2 linked regions of the Homo sapiens genome follow. The protein of the gene in region 1 purifies or fractionates together with the protein of each later gene. This does not show direct contact. Each region holds a gene or a part of one and is shown on either strand. Other genes may lie near its edges.

The links. The genes of interacting proteins can lie anywhere in the genome.
Region 2: the proteins of MGME1 (region 1) and MIPEP purify together in Homo sapiens (co-immunoprecipitation; 3 studies listed by BioGRID and IntAct, with this or other methods). This does not show direct contact.

What each region holds. Positions count from the first base shown.
Region 1 is NC_000020.11:17,972,018-17,979,041, reverse strand, and holds part of MGME1 (mitochondrial genome maintenance exonuclease 1 isoform 2 precursor), read right to left. Parts: intron 6,336-7,024; coding exon of another isoform or gene 6,291-6,335; intron 3,359-6,290; coding exon 3,139-3,358; intron 1-3,138. UniProt on the Homo sapiens protein: Metal-dependent single-stranded DNA (ssDNA) exonuclease involved in mitochondrial genome maintenance. Has preference for 5'-3' exonuclease activity but is also capable of endonuclease activity on linear substrates.
Region 2 is NC_000013.11:23,886,396-23,893,885, forward strand, and holds the start of MIPEP (mitochondrial intermediate peptidase), read right to left. Parts: upstream 3,006-7,490; 5' UTR 2,926-3,005; coding exon 2,737-2,925; exon of another isoform or gene 2,286-2,736; coding exon of another isoform or gene 2,283-2,285; intron 112-2,282; coding exon 1-111. Other genes in the region: C1QTNF9B (complement C1q and tumor necrosis factor-related protein 9B precursor), read right to left, coding at 4,894-5,666. UniProt on the Homo sapiens protein: Cleaves proteins, imported into the mitochondrion, to their mature size.

The sequences.
Region 1 (7,024 bases):
CTTTGGGAGGCTGAGGCGGGCAGATCACTCAAGGCCCGGAGCTCGAGACCAGCCTGGGCAACATGTCCAAACCCCATCTCTACTAAAAACACAAAAAATTAGCCAGGCGTGGTGGTGGGTGCCTGTAGTCCTAGCCACTTGGGGAGGCTGACACAGGAGAATTGCTTGAACCCAGGAGGCAGAGGTTGCAGTGAACTGAGATTGGGCCACCACACTCCAGTCTGGGTGACAGAGCAAGACTCTGTCTCAAAAACAAAAACAAAAACAACAAAAAAAAACCGTAGTTTCAAAAATGTTCATATTACCAAGGTTGATGTTGACTTAAAAAGCAAAAAACAAACAACAGTGCTATGGACATATTTTATCATCTCTATGACAAGCATTGGGTGTCAGGAACTTCTTGTAGGCCTTGGGTGGAGGTGACTGTATGGCTTCCTTGGTTTATCTAAAAGGCAACCAAAGTCTATTAAATCTCTTGGTATACAGGGCTCTTCTCAGATATGACGCAGTTGTGCTATAAAACCATTAGGTGGTCTAGGCCAGGCGCGGTGGCTCACGTCTGTAATCTCAGCACTTTGGGAGGCTGAGGTGGGTGGATCACCTGAGGTCAGGAGTTCGAGACCAGCCTGGCCAACATGGCGAAACCCCATCTCTACTAATAACACAAAAATTAGCCGGGTGTGGTGGCGTGCACCTCTAATCCCAGCTACTTGGGAGGCTGAGGCAGGAGAATCGCTTGAACCCAGGAGGCAGAGGTTACAGTGAGCCAAGATCACGCCATTGCACTCCAACCTGGGCAACAAGAGTGAAACTCCGTCTCAAAAATAAATAAATAAAAAATAAAACCATTAGGTGGTCTAAACAGTTTTCAGACTATCAAGGGTGCCCACTCTTTCGGCTTCCTGGCCCACATTGGAAGAATTGTCTTGGGCCACACAATAGCTGATGAACTAAAAATAAATAAATAAATAACCAAAAAAAAATCTCATAATGTTTTAAGAAAGTTTACGAATTTGTATTGGGCTGTGGAATAGACAAGCTTTTAAACTTAAATTTTAACTAGAGCTTCAAGGTTTACATGAACGGATTTTTCTATCTTGTTCTTAGTGATCGCTTGCCTTATTTGGATTAGGGGTACCTGCAGGTTGTAGCCACCTTTGTATCAGAGGCGTTCGAACGAGAGCAACTCCATCTTGAGTGAGGGCTAGGAAAGTGAGGCTGGGCCTTGCTGGGCTGCATTCCCAGAAAGTCAGGCATTCATAGCCTCTAGATGTTTAAGGTTAAGGGAACAAATTAATAATGTTTACTAAACAGACCCAGACTTGGGAGTGTCCAGATACCCTGATATCTGGAGAACGAAGGCATTCCTAATTTTGCTTTAAAGATAGTATCGATTCTTGCAAAATATAATAATTAAGAAAATTAATCCTTTATCACAAACCCTTGCAGTAGAGCACATCTCCCCAAGATCTCTTTTTTTATCTTATATATATGAGCACTGTACTTAGGGTGGAAGTGTTCCTCCTCTTACTTTCAGGAACGCCCTGCTCTGTCTATGGAGTAGCTATACTTCCACTACTTTACTTTATTAATAAACCTGCTTTTACTTTGCACTGCAGACTCATCCTGAATGCTTTTTCTTTTCTTTCTTTTATTTTTTTTTTTTTGAGACAGAGTCTCACCTGTTGCTCAGGCTGGAGTGCAGTGGCACCATCTCGGTTCACTGCAACTTCTGCCTCCCGGGTTAAAGTGATTCTCCTGCCTCAGACTCCCGAGTAGCTGGGACTATAGGCACACACCACTGCGCCTGGCTAATTTTTGTATTTTTAGTAGAGACGGAGTTTTGCCATGTTGGCTAGGCTGGTCTTGAACTCCTGACCTCAGGTGATCTGCCCACCTCGGCCTCCCAAAGTGCTGGGATTACAGGCGTGAGCCACTGTGCCTGCCTTCAACCTAAATTCTTTCTTGCCCGAGATCGAAGAACCCTCTCGGGGTCTGGATCAGGACCCCTTTCCTGTAACACTTGGACTCTGAAGTACCTGAGTAAAACAGTAAGACAGCTACGATATAAAAACCATGGGGACCGGGCGTGGTGGCTCATGCCTACAATCCTAGCACTTTGGGAGGCTGAGGCAGGCGGATCACCTGAGGTCCGAAGTTCGAGACCAGCCTGACCAACATGGAGAAACCCCATCTCTACTAAAAATACAAAATCAGCCACACATGGTGGCGCATGCCTGTAATCCCAGCTACTTGGGAGGCTGAGGCAAGATAATAGCTTGAACCTAGGAGATGGAGGTTGCAGTGAGCTGAAATCGCACCACTGCACTCCAGCCTGGGCAACAAGAGCAAAACTCCGTCTCAAAAAACAAAACGAAACAAAACAAAACAAAACAACCATGGGAAGCTTTAGTAAGTTCAGATCTCTGATCCATGTCAAGCACTGCCTGGAAGCCAGGAAGAGTTGATTTTCAGAACCAACAGATCATGGTGCTATCTTTAGAAAAACAGGAAAGAAAACGCAGGAATGAAATTGGATCTTATGGCAGGTACCTTGCTTTGGGGGAGGGGAAGGACAGGCTGGCAAACAGGCCATGTTAGGGAGATTGAAAAATCTCGGCCAGGTGCAGTGGCTCACGCCTGTAATCCCAGCACTTTGGGAAACCAAGGTGGATGGATCACTTGAGGTCGGGAGTTTGAGACCAGCCTGGCCAACATGGTGAAACCCTGTCTCTACTAAAAATACAAAAATTAGCCAGGTGCGGTGGTGCATGCCTGTAGTCCCAGCTACTCAGGAGGCTGAGGCAGGAGAACCGCTTGAACCTGGGAGACGGAGGTTGCAGTGAGCCAAGATTGCACCACTGCACTCCAGCTTGGGTGACACTCCGTCTCAAAACAAAACAAACAAACAAAGAATATACCTTTCTCCAGCAAACAATTTGATTTTGGAGTACTGGATGACAAAGGTTACGTGGCTCTTCTCCTTGTACCTGTTCTCAACCCCGCCCCACCCAATTCTTTTACCTAGCACAAAGGTCTGGACATTAAACAGACAGAGGCTACAGTACCTACAGGCACACCTTTGACAGGCACCATCTGTCCTACGCTGTATTAATTCACCTCCAATCTCATACTTACTGATACTCAGCCACACAGTCCAGCAGACCTATATAGTTTAAGGTTTCATGTTGAACAGCACTTTCAAGAGCTCGCACTCCACTGACATCTTTCAGAATATGCTGGACACTTTCAATGTAACCAGACTTGAGGAGATTTTCATCTCTCTCTTTTAAGGTTTCCTGGGGTGAAAGTATGCTTTCCAAGGCTTCGTGGAACCGTTTCCCTTGTAAAAAGACGTCTGAAAAGAAAATCAGGGAAAAGGGGAGGGGGGAAACACAAACAAAGCTAACACTGAAAAACAAATACTCTAAAACGCCCTGAAACAATACAATTAAAAATGACATTTTTTTTTCTTTTTTTTTTTTTTGGATGGAGTCTCCCTCTGTCGCCCAGGCTGGAGTGTAGTGGGCGATATTGGCTCACTGCAACCTCTGCCTCCTGGGGTCAAGTGATTCTCCTGCCTCAGCCTCCTGAGTAGCTGGGATTACAGGCGCCCGCCACCGTGCCTGGCTAATTTTTCTACTTTTAGTAGAGATGGGGTTTCACCATATTGGTGAGGCTGGTCTCGAACTCCTGACCTCGTGATCTGCCAGCCTTGGCCTCCCAAAGTGCTGAGACTACAGGCATGAGCCACCGTGCCCGGCCAAAAATTACATTAGTTATTTTTAAGTGACAACCCCTAAGACCAAATTTCAGCCTCTTGTGAAACCTAAGAATATACTTTGAAACCAACGGGATTATTAATAGGACGTTAGGTAATAAAATGAATTAAAATTAAGTACTTCTAGGAGAATTGGGCCAAAGTCAAAACTGAAGATCTGGCGGCTACAAGACCACATCCAGTTTATGGTACTATGTGTTTAAGTATCCAATGTAATAAGTTAACTGGCTGTGATAAAATAAAAAAAAATTAGAAATCTAGGGAACTGTGCTTCTGTTTGTAGTTCTTTTTAGACCAAAACTTAATTATGAACATAGGTGGGGGAATCCTTTTACTAACAGGATTAGTGACAAACAAGGAATGGAAAATAAGGCATGCGCAAATGAAAAGTTATGAATTTGATATTATGGAATCTGGAGGGGGAGGAAGAGGAAAATATGTGACATTCTTCTCCTGTATTTTTTTTTTAGTGCTGGAACAGCCTGAAAAATTCAGCTGTGTCTCAATTTTTTTCCCTCATACATTTTTCTATTCTAATATTTAATATTTAACATGTAATATTTTTCTAATTAGCTTTAGATTATTAGAATTCTGATTTATGGCTTGTAGGAGGACACATCTTCTTTCTTCCTAACATTTTATAACATGTGAATACTAGAGAAATTTCATTAGGACACATTAGGACACATTATTTTTCCTGTATGTTCATTTTCTGAGGTCAAAGCCTTACTTTTCGTCCCCAGGTTTCTCCGAAAGAACTGTAGTGTCTGGATTTGTTGGCGTATCCCAGGATCTAACTTGATTTTTGAACTCTCTCCTCATTTTCAGTGCTCGTTGGCCTCCAAGCGCTTGCATAGTAAGCCCCCTCCTCATACACATTTTAAAAAAGGGAACATGGCCGGGCATGGTGGCTTATGCCTATAATCCCAGCACTTTGGGCAGCCAAGGCAGGCGGATTACCTGAGGTCAGGAGTTCAAGACCAGCCTGGCCAACATGGTAAAACCCAGTCTCTACTCAAAATACAAAAATTAGCCAGGTGTGGTGGCGCATGCCTGTAATTCCAGCTACTCTGGAGGCTGAGGCAGGAGAATTGCTTGAACCCAGGAGGCAGAGGTTGCAGTGAGCCAAGATCATGCCACTGCACTCCAGCCTGGGTGACAGAGCAAGACAATCTCAAAAAAAAAAAAAAAAAAAAAAACACACAAAGAGACTCAACAAACACAAGAAATATATTCACTTGTTTCTTAGTAAGAGGAGAGAAAGAGGGGGGACTGTTATGCTAAGCAATGGCCTTGGAGCTTTCAAAACATTATTTAATTTTCAAACCCAACAACCCAGCAAAATAGGGATTGTAAGTTACCCCCATTTTAATGAATGAGGCCCTATCCCACCAGGCAGTGCTGTTAATTTGCCCCAAAGCAAAAAGCTGGACAGGCAGCCTGGCACCAGAATCTGTTTCCAATCTACCACACAGTAGAGCAAAGGAAGCAATCTTGGAAATCACCAATTAGATACTCAGAGAAACAGAGCAGGAAATACACGTGCTTGGAACATGCTTGCAGAGAGACCCACAGAAAAGGCGGAAAACAACTTTACATTTGTCAAGTTTTTTTTTTTTTGAGACAGGGTCTTACTTGTCACCCAGGATGGAGTGTACTGGCTCGATCATTGCTCACTGTAACCTTGAACACCTGGCCTTAAGCAATCCTCCTGTCTCAGCTTCCTCTACAGGCATGTGCCACCACGCCTGGCTAATTCAAAAAAATTTTTTTTTTGTAGAGATGCAATCTCTCTACGTTGCCTAGGCTGGTCTTAAACACCTGGCCTCAAGCAATCGTCCCACCTTGGTCTCCCAGAGTGCTGGGATTACAGGCATGAGCCACTGCACTCGGCCTTCAACTATTTTTTACAAAGATGGAAATGTCAATTCTTTTTTTTTCCAGGCTGGAGTGCAGTGGTATGATCTCGGCTCACTGCAATCTCCACCTCCCAGGTTCAAGCGATTCTCCTGCCTCAGCCTCCGTAGTAGCTGGGATTACAAGTGATCGCTGCGCCCGGCTAATTTTTTTGTATTTTTAGTAGAGATGGGGTTTCGCCATTTTGGCCAGGCTGGTTTTGAACTCCTGACCTCAAGTGATCCGCCTGCTTCGGCCTCCCAAAGTGCTAGGATTACAGGCATGAGCCACTATGCCCAGCTGGAAATGTCAATTCTATCATTAGCAAAAAATGGAATCCCTTCTGAAAAATTATTTGGAGAGTTAAATGAAATTCAACTTAGGAACTAAGTTATTCTACTCCAAATTTACTTGACTCAATTGGAATTATTAACACGTGAAAGACCTACAAGAAATTTATGACTGATGGAATTAAAGCCTAGGAAAAAGAAGTGTATAGCATTCATCTACACACTAGGTTAATGAAGCAGAAGACAAACATGTTAAAAACAGGAAGAAAAAAACTTAGCAAATGCCATGCCAATAGACCATACATTTCTCGCTGCAAACTTACCCCTGGCTAGGTTCTTCATATACACATGATCACAAACATGAAAACCTAGATTACAGGATCCTTTAGACACTAAGGCTCAGAACATTCAACATGATTCAATTTATAAAAATAAAAAATGATCCAAGAATATTCACTGCATGTAGCATCAAGTCTGCTTATTCACTCAAAGTAATGAAAGTGAAATGTTTTCAAGTCCTCGTATATGAAGTGCACTAAAAAAAACCTTCATGCATCTCCAGTATTCTCATGATGGAACTGGCAGGATGGCTAATACTTCAGGATTAAATCAGCGTAGCAAAAAAAAAAAAAAAAAAATTAAAACCTAAACCCCATCCCTTTGTGTGTATTTATACACAAAATATAAATCAGAATAAGTCAGACTTTCTCATTCCCACCAGTCTTCAAAAGATGAACTGATGCTTGGGAAACTGCTCAAGTATTTGGAAGAATGCCAGACACATTTCTATGCTCTCACCTTTGAGAAGACTGGGTAGAAATTACTGATCCAATATTTTTCATTAAAAAAATCTTCTTAATTTTTAAAATGTAATTCTTCTTGGGTGCCACCTTCTTGGGTTTGGGATCCAGTATCCTCCAGACCCGTTAATCAATTTAGTGAGCCCTTTTTCTTTTATTCACCATGACACTAATTGTCCCTTTATTTATTTCAGAACCCACTGCTTACTAATACTTATTTTCTAAAAAGAGTGATTCTGCCTGGGCACAGTGGGTCA
Region 2 (7,490 bases), on another chromosome or scaffold:
AGGTGGGGTGGAACATGCACGGTCCACAAGCAATTCTGTCTTTCTCAAGGCTTTTTCTTGTGCAATATGAAATCCTTCTGGGGCACTCAGCTCAGGAACTCCAAAAAGACCCTTAGAACCAAAGAATACGTCTGATTTATAACCAAAATTCAAAATTGTGCTTTTTTTATATTTACTAAAATTACTTTTATCACAAAGGAGATCTTGACTTTCATTGGTGTATCATGTTATACCTGTGATCACAGATACCACTATCATACTCCCCATATCACTCCACATAAATTACACTAAAAATGTTTTCAGAACATAATTTTTCTTCAATTTTTAATTATTTTCCGGAAAAAACAACAACAACAATGGTATGGGTTCAAAATCCAGCTGTCACTTCTACAGAACCTAAGAGTGGCCGCAAAGATTAAATGAGATCATATATGTAAATATATATATATATATACATAAAGCAGTGTTTGGCACAGAGCATTTATAGATGTTAGCCATAATTATTATTAGCTTATAACCCTGGTCATGTTATTTCTCCTCCTAGGAGAAATATTTTTTTCATCATGTACAATGGGAATGACGATACATACCTTACAGCATGGATACAGGTAATAAGTATATGTAAAGTACTAACAGCAGCAGCTGACAAGGTGAGATCTCAGTACATAGTACCAATTATTCTATAACTATCAAATAGGGAGGATGAGTTGACTATGAAGCAATAGATATTTTAGAAAAATGTAATGAACATATTAAAATCATAGGCTGAAACTGGGAGCAAATTTTATACGTTACAAAGACATTTCAATATCTTGATAAAAACAAAAATCACTGATCTAATGGTAATGACCATTCTCTTGTTACCTATTCAATCACACTTGTTAGCACACTCAGGAAGGCAGGGGGAAAAAGCATTTAATATGCACCTACTGCATACCATGAAGTGTGCCTGCTACTTTACATAGGTTCTCATTTAAATCACACAATCCTACAGAACAGAGTATCATTCTTTTACAGATCAGGCCACATGCTTTAAGACGTTAGAAAAAACTTGTTTGAGGTCACAAATTAATATTGGGAAAGACAGAACTCGAACCCGCTCTGTACATCTGTAAAGCCCACACTTTTCCATACTTCTCTATTACAATTTATCTGTTTGAAAGTCTTCTCTCCTGAAAAGGTGAGCTTCCAGACCCAAGAGCCCTGCCCTTCATTTCTTTAACCAGCTATCCAATAGAATGTCTAACACATGGGGGAACTCAATGAAAGAAACAAGTGACCGGAGCAGATGCTAGGCTTTGTTAATTCACTTTGTAGGTGCTTAACGCATAGATTTTCAGAAATACGAACAGGTAAACCTTCAGGCCTGACAAGCCCTACTGTTTCTACAAGAAGGGATGGATGAAGTTAAGCTAGTAATCTCTCTTCAAAATATATTACAAGATAAAAAATAAAATAAAAGAAAGTCAGTGGGAGACAAAGGAAAATCAGGACCAAAAACAAATGTCATCTTTATACTGATTTAATTTGATTCAAGCACAGACTACTTCCACTTCCCAGTACAACCTGCCCATATTGCTCTCGGGAATTCTAACTATCGGATTACCAGTGACCATAATGCTAAAAAACTGAATAAGGCTTTTTTTTTTTCAAGGCAAAAATCAATTCTAAAATTTGAAAATCTGCTATCAGTGCCGAATATCATGATACAAAAAGGGAAAAATAAAAGCTAAAATTAGTTATATCTCATCCACCCAAAATCAGGCTTCCCCTCACGTCTTTCTGCTCAGCGCCTACAAGTAGGTCTCTTCACACCAACTATGTTAATACCAACACTACATACCCTTAAGGAAGGTGGTGTAGCAAATTTCACACAAAATAATTTTTAAATAGACAAAACTGATAATGGAGATAAAACAAGAATCACACACTTTAGCTCAGTGCAACAATACCCTAGACTTGTCTTTATAAGGCAATACAGTATAACGAAATTTTAAAAGGCAAAAATAAAAGTAATCCTTAACCTAAAACGGACAAAATGTACAAACTCCAAGTAGAACAGGCATCAGGTAAGTCCTTTCCAACCTTGCCTTCCTCTCACCTTTCACTAGACAACGCAGGCTAGTGACTTCCTGGGGTAAGAAATCAAAGTGACCAATTCCATGGCACTATGGGAAGTGAGACTCGTCTCAACAGAGTTTTGTGTTTTAAAACAAGAAAGCCCAAAGCTTTGAAATAAATTAATTAATAGATGATGGAATTTCAGGTATTAATGAAATTACCATTACTCGACTGCAGGCAGCCGTGTCCTTGCAAAAAGACCATGTGATGCCGCCTGTGAACGCACAGGGATAGGCCTCTTAAGGCAGGACTGTAGCGCTGGAGCTAAAGGGCTTTAGCAGGGGTGCGCCTGAGTGTATGCAGAGGGCGGGTCCTGGCAGGACGAATTCACCGCCACTGCCAGAACGAACTATTCAGATTCACGTGGAGCAAGGGGCTCATGCAGAAGCAGTTCCCGGACCCGACACTCTGGGTAGGAGACCACTAAACCCGGCCCCTCAAAGCAGAGGTGACCTTGCCCTCATCGAGAGCGCACACAAGACGCCACTGTAAAAGGTGGGTTCGCTGCTCGCCTCCTCCCAGGCCCAAACAATCTCGCCCTGATTGTTGCTGGCCGCGCGGAGCAGGGGTCGGCTTAGCTCGGGGACTGAGGGGAGCTCCTCCTGCGCCGCTCACCCGGCGCTCGCCGAACAGGTCCAAGCGGCTGCCCTGGGGCTTGACATTGAAGGCGGCGCCCACGGGAGACCAGCTGGTGCTGACCCTTCGGGCCCGGATCCCGGCTTCGAGGCTTCCCCGGCCCGCCCGGCGGGGCGGCAGAGCTGCTGCTCTGGCTCCCAAGCCGCCCAGCCTTCCGACGCACAGCATTCTAGCACCAGAGCAGTCCCTTCCTCCAACGCAGATCCCTGCCCTGCTGCTTTCGCTGGGAGCGCGCGCTCCGCGTTTCCAAGGCAGCAGCCCACGCCGCCCCACGTGACGGCCCCGCTTCCGGGTCTGGGCGCGGCCTCAGGACGTGGGCACGTTGTCGTCCAGAGAGCAAGAGCGTCGCTCCCCCTCGCCTTCTCGGCCGCCCTCCCGGTTTACCGCCCCCTGTGTCCAGAGTAAGAAAAGGCTAGGGTTGCGCTTCCCTCCCAAGTTGACTAGGGGTGGGCGCGAGTAAAATCATGACATATTCGAATTCCAGTGGACATTAGATATTCTTTGAGAGACGGCAGGTACTTGAGTAAACAAGAAATGCCCACCATAGGCCTGAAGGAGAAGTTTCCCTTTTAACCTACTCTCTTGGTAAATTTATCCTGCACTTCTCTGTTTGGTGTCTCTGTCCGGTAACTTTTTACTCTTGCATAGCTCAGTTAAAAATTTTAGATGGGAAATAGTGAAAGAAGTCTAATGGGATTTTCCCTCCAGGGTTTCAGAATTGCCTGGGACCCGTGAACCCTTTTTTCCTTCCCCTTTCTCTCTTTTGGAATGGATTGTCTACCCTATGCCTGTCTCCCCCTCCAACCCCCGGTCTTTTAGAAGTGGATTAACTCGTCTCGCTTCACAGGATCACAGATGGAGAGACATTTTGCCACACGATGAATCACACAGTAAGTCTCCTCTGTAGCTTATTTAAATGATGTAGATGGTGAGAGGAGTTGATGCGGAAAGTGTTAAGACTTTTGGTAATGTTGACATGGTGCGAAAATGTATTTTGCACATGAGAAGGAAATCAATTTTGGGAACCAGAGGGCAGATTGGGTTGAACTGTGTCTCCCAAAATAGATGCTGAAGTCCTAACCCTCGGTGCCTGTACATGTGACCTTATTTGAAAATATGGAGTTTGCAATTATGATTAAGATGGGTCATACTAGATTAGGGAAGCTGTTCTTGTAAGAAGAGGAAAATTTGGCTGATACAGGAGGAGGACAGCCACCTGAAGATGGAGGCGGGGACTGGAGTGATGCTGCCACCAGCTGCCAGAAGCTGGAAGCAGCAAGGCTGCATCCTCCTGTATCCCCTTTGGAGGGAGGATGGCCCTGCTGCTACGGTGATCTCAAACTTCCAGCCTACAGAACTGTGAGAAAGTCCGTTTCTGTTGTTTAAAGACTCCCAGTTTGTGTACTTTATTAGGGCGATCCTAGAAAACAAGTAGAGATTCATGTCTGGCAAATAATGATCAAACAATGATTTGTTGGATAGAATGGTGATTAAAACCTAGGTTAGAAAATGAGCAAAATGGGAGGGAAAGCACCAGGACAAATAGCTAATGCATGCAGGGCTTAATACCTGCATAGGTGATGGGTTGACAGATGCAGCAAACCACCACAGCACATTTTTATGTAACAAACCTGCACGTTCTGCATATGTATTCCAGAACTTAAAAATACATTTTTTAAAAAAAGACAAAATGAGCAGTGTCTACAGCTTTCTGGAGTGTGACAGCATCACCAGCTTAAAGCTGTTACTAGTACTAAATGGAATAAACATTTCCCTCTAATTTCCCCTTAATGTCCTCAGAAACACAGATGAGGGATACATCTTCATATGACTCCTCAGAGCACTAAAATGATATCAAAACACTCTTCCCACAAGAAATGCACAGACAAAGGATTCTTCAGATAATAGGAATAAGAAATGTGAAATAAATTAGAATAAACCATGCAGCTATTTTAAATATTTACTCCTGGAAAAATAGTAAGTTACATAGAATCAGTTTTGGGAATAACTTTTCCGTTTTCACCTTTTTATGATTATTGTAATAATTGGAGGAATTAATAAAGTAAAACCATCTGAATAAGTTCATCCCAAGCTGATTCTGATGGATGGTCTGGCAGATTTATAAACTCTCCTCTGTCACTGGCTGCTGAACAGAAGGAACCCTGTGAAAGTTGTGTCATCGTCCTCATCAGCAAACAAGCCATTGAACCTCTCTCCTCCTGTCACCTGCAGCCACATCTCATCCCCGAGCTTCAGCTGCAGGACAATGCTGCCAGAGGCCTGGTCCTCAGAGCTCACGTAAGCATCTCTGGTGTGCAGTATTTTTACTCCGTTTTTGACCAAAGACACCTGAACATTCCTGGAGAAAACAGTGATGTGGTAGGTGAAGTAATAGACCCCAGCAATGTGGCACGTGAATTTCCCCACTGCTGTATCATAATGGTTGAATTCATTATACAGGATCTTATCAAATTTAATGGGCACATCTGAAGAAGGAAACTTGCTCAGCACCGTGAGCCCCACAGTGAAAGCACTTTTTGGCAAGACTAGAGTCTCACCGATTTTCCCTTTCTCTCCTCGATCTCCTTTCCAGCCTCTTATTCCCCGGACTCCTGGCTCACCCTGGGGCCCCGTGGGTCCAGCTTCTCCCTTGGGACCAGGCTTTCCAATAGGGCCCATGGGGCCCGGTAAACCAGTTGGGCCCAAAGGCCCAATGTTGCCCCTTGGCCCCTCAGGACCAGTGGGACCCACGTCACCCTTATTCCCCTTCTGCCCCTGAGGCCCAGTCTCTCCTCGGAGGCCTTTCTCTCCCATGGGCCCTGCAAGCCCCTTGGGGCCATGTTTTCCTGGGGATCCTCTTGAGCCTTGATCACCTTTGATGCCTTTTGCTTCAACTTTTCCATCTGCTCCTAAATAGAGAAAGAGCAAATAAAGAGATAGTTTGTGAAAGATTCCCTTGTGAACAACTTTGGTTTTTCTATAATTGAGCTCACAAATGAAACAAAGTAGTACACAGGTTCAGTATATGCCCAGAGTTTAAAATTCAATTACTCCATCTGGGTGCGGTGGCTCACACCTGTAATCCTAGCACCTTGGGAGACCGCGGCAGGAGGACTGCCTGAGGCCAAGAGTTCAAGACCATCCCGGCCAACATAGCAATTCCCTGACTCTAAAAAAATAAAAATAATAAAAAAATAAGAAAATAAAATTCAATTACTCCAGCCCAGCTCAGTGGCTTATGCCTGTAATCCTAGCACTTTGGGAGGCCAAGAGAGGCAGACTACTTGAGTCCAGGAATTCAAGATCAGGCTAGGCAACATGGCAAAACCTCATCTCTGCAAAAAGTACAAAAATTAACCAGGTGCGGTGGCACACAATTGTAGTCCCAGATATTCAGGAGGCTGAGGTGGGAGGATGGCTTGAGCCCAGGAGGCTGAGGCTGCAGTGATCCGTGATCAAACCACTGCACTCCAGCCTGGGCAACAGAGTGAGACCCTGTCTCAAAAAAATAAATAAAAGTCAATTACTCCAATTACACACGTGTGTGCACATGGACACACACACACACATCCCAACACACCTTTTGACTACTGTCTACTAAATTAGTGTCAGGGCTCACATTAGAAATTACAACCCTACCATCTAAGTCTACCATGCTGGCTATTAAATAATGTCAATCCATGACAAAAAGCACTCTGCAGAGCAGAGACAGACAGATTAACTGACACTCAACCCTAGTCGTGACATCCTCTAAAAACCTCCTCCCTGGAGTGAACATAAAATAAAGCCTGCATCGAGGCATTGCCCTCTCCTGCCCAACCCCAGCCCCAACCCACCTATCCCACCGGCAATTCATCATCTACAGAAACCTTGCTGCTTCCTTGCACCCCCACCCATACCAAAGAGCCGTCGTTGCAAGTGTGGACTCTGAGGCTAAGTGCCAGGTTTCCATTCTGTCCCCATATGCACACAGGACGTCAGACGAGCTAGTGAGCCTCGTGCCTCTGTTCCCTCACCTACGGAACTGGGGTGATAAAACTACCTAGTGTCTGGGGATGTTGCATTTGGTGAGTCAGTACATGAAAAGCACAAAGTGAAGATTACACAAGTTTGCCACTACGACTACATCCCAACCCATCAGGGACCAGTTCTAGTGCCACCTCCTCCATGCAGTGCTGCCAGATGCACCAAGTCAAAAACTCAGTCTCACTCCTCAGTGCTCATCCACTGCAAGGTTCAAAGTTCAGCAAACTACAGCCACAGGCCAAATTCAGCCTCCCTCCCGCAAGCAAAACAAACATGGTTGACATTTTTTTTGTTTTTCTGGTTTTTGTTTGTGACAGGGTCACTCACTCTGTTACCCAGGCTGGAGTGCAGTGATGAGATCATGGCTCATGGCAGCCTCAAACTCCCAGGCTCAAGTGATCCTCCCATCTCAGCCTCCTGAGTAGCTGGGACTACAGGCATGTGCCACCATGCCTGGCTAGTTTTTTTATTTGTATAGACAAAGTCTTACTATGTTGCCCAGGGTGGTCTGGAACTCCTAGGTTCAAGCGATTCTCTTACCTGGGCCTCCCAAAGTGTTGGGATTACAGGTGTGAGGCATGGTGCTCGGCCATGGTTTGCATGTTTAAATGGTCACAAATAATATTCCACAATACATGGAAACCATGGGAAATTCCCATTTCAGTCTTCACACATATGGTGTCACTGGAACAGAGCCATGCTTATTT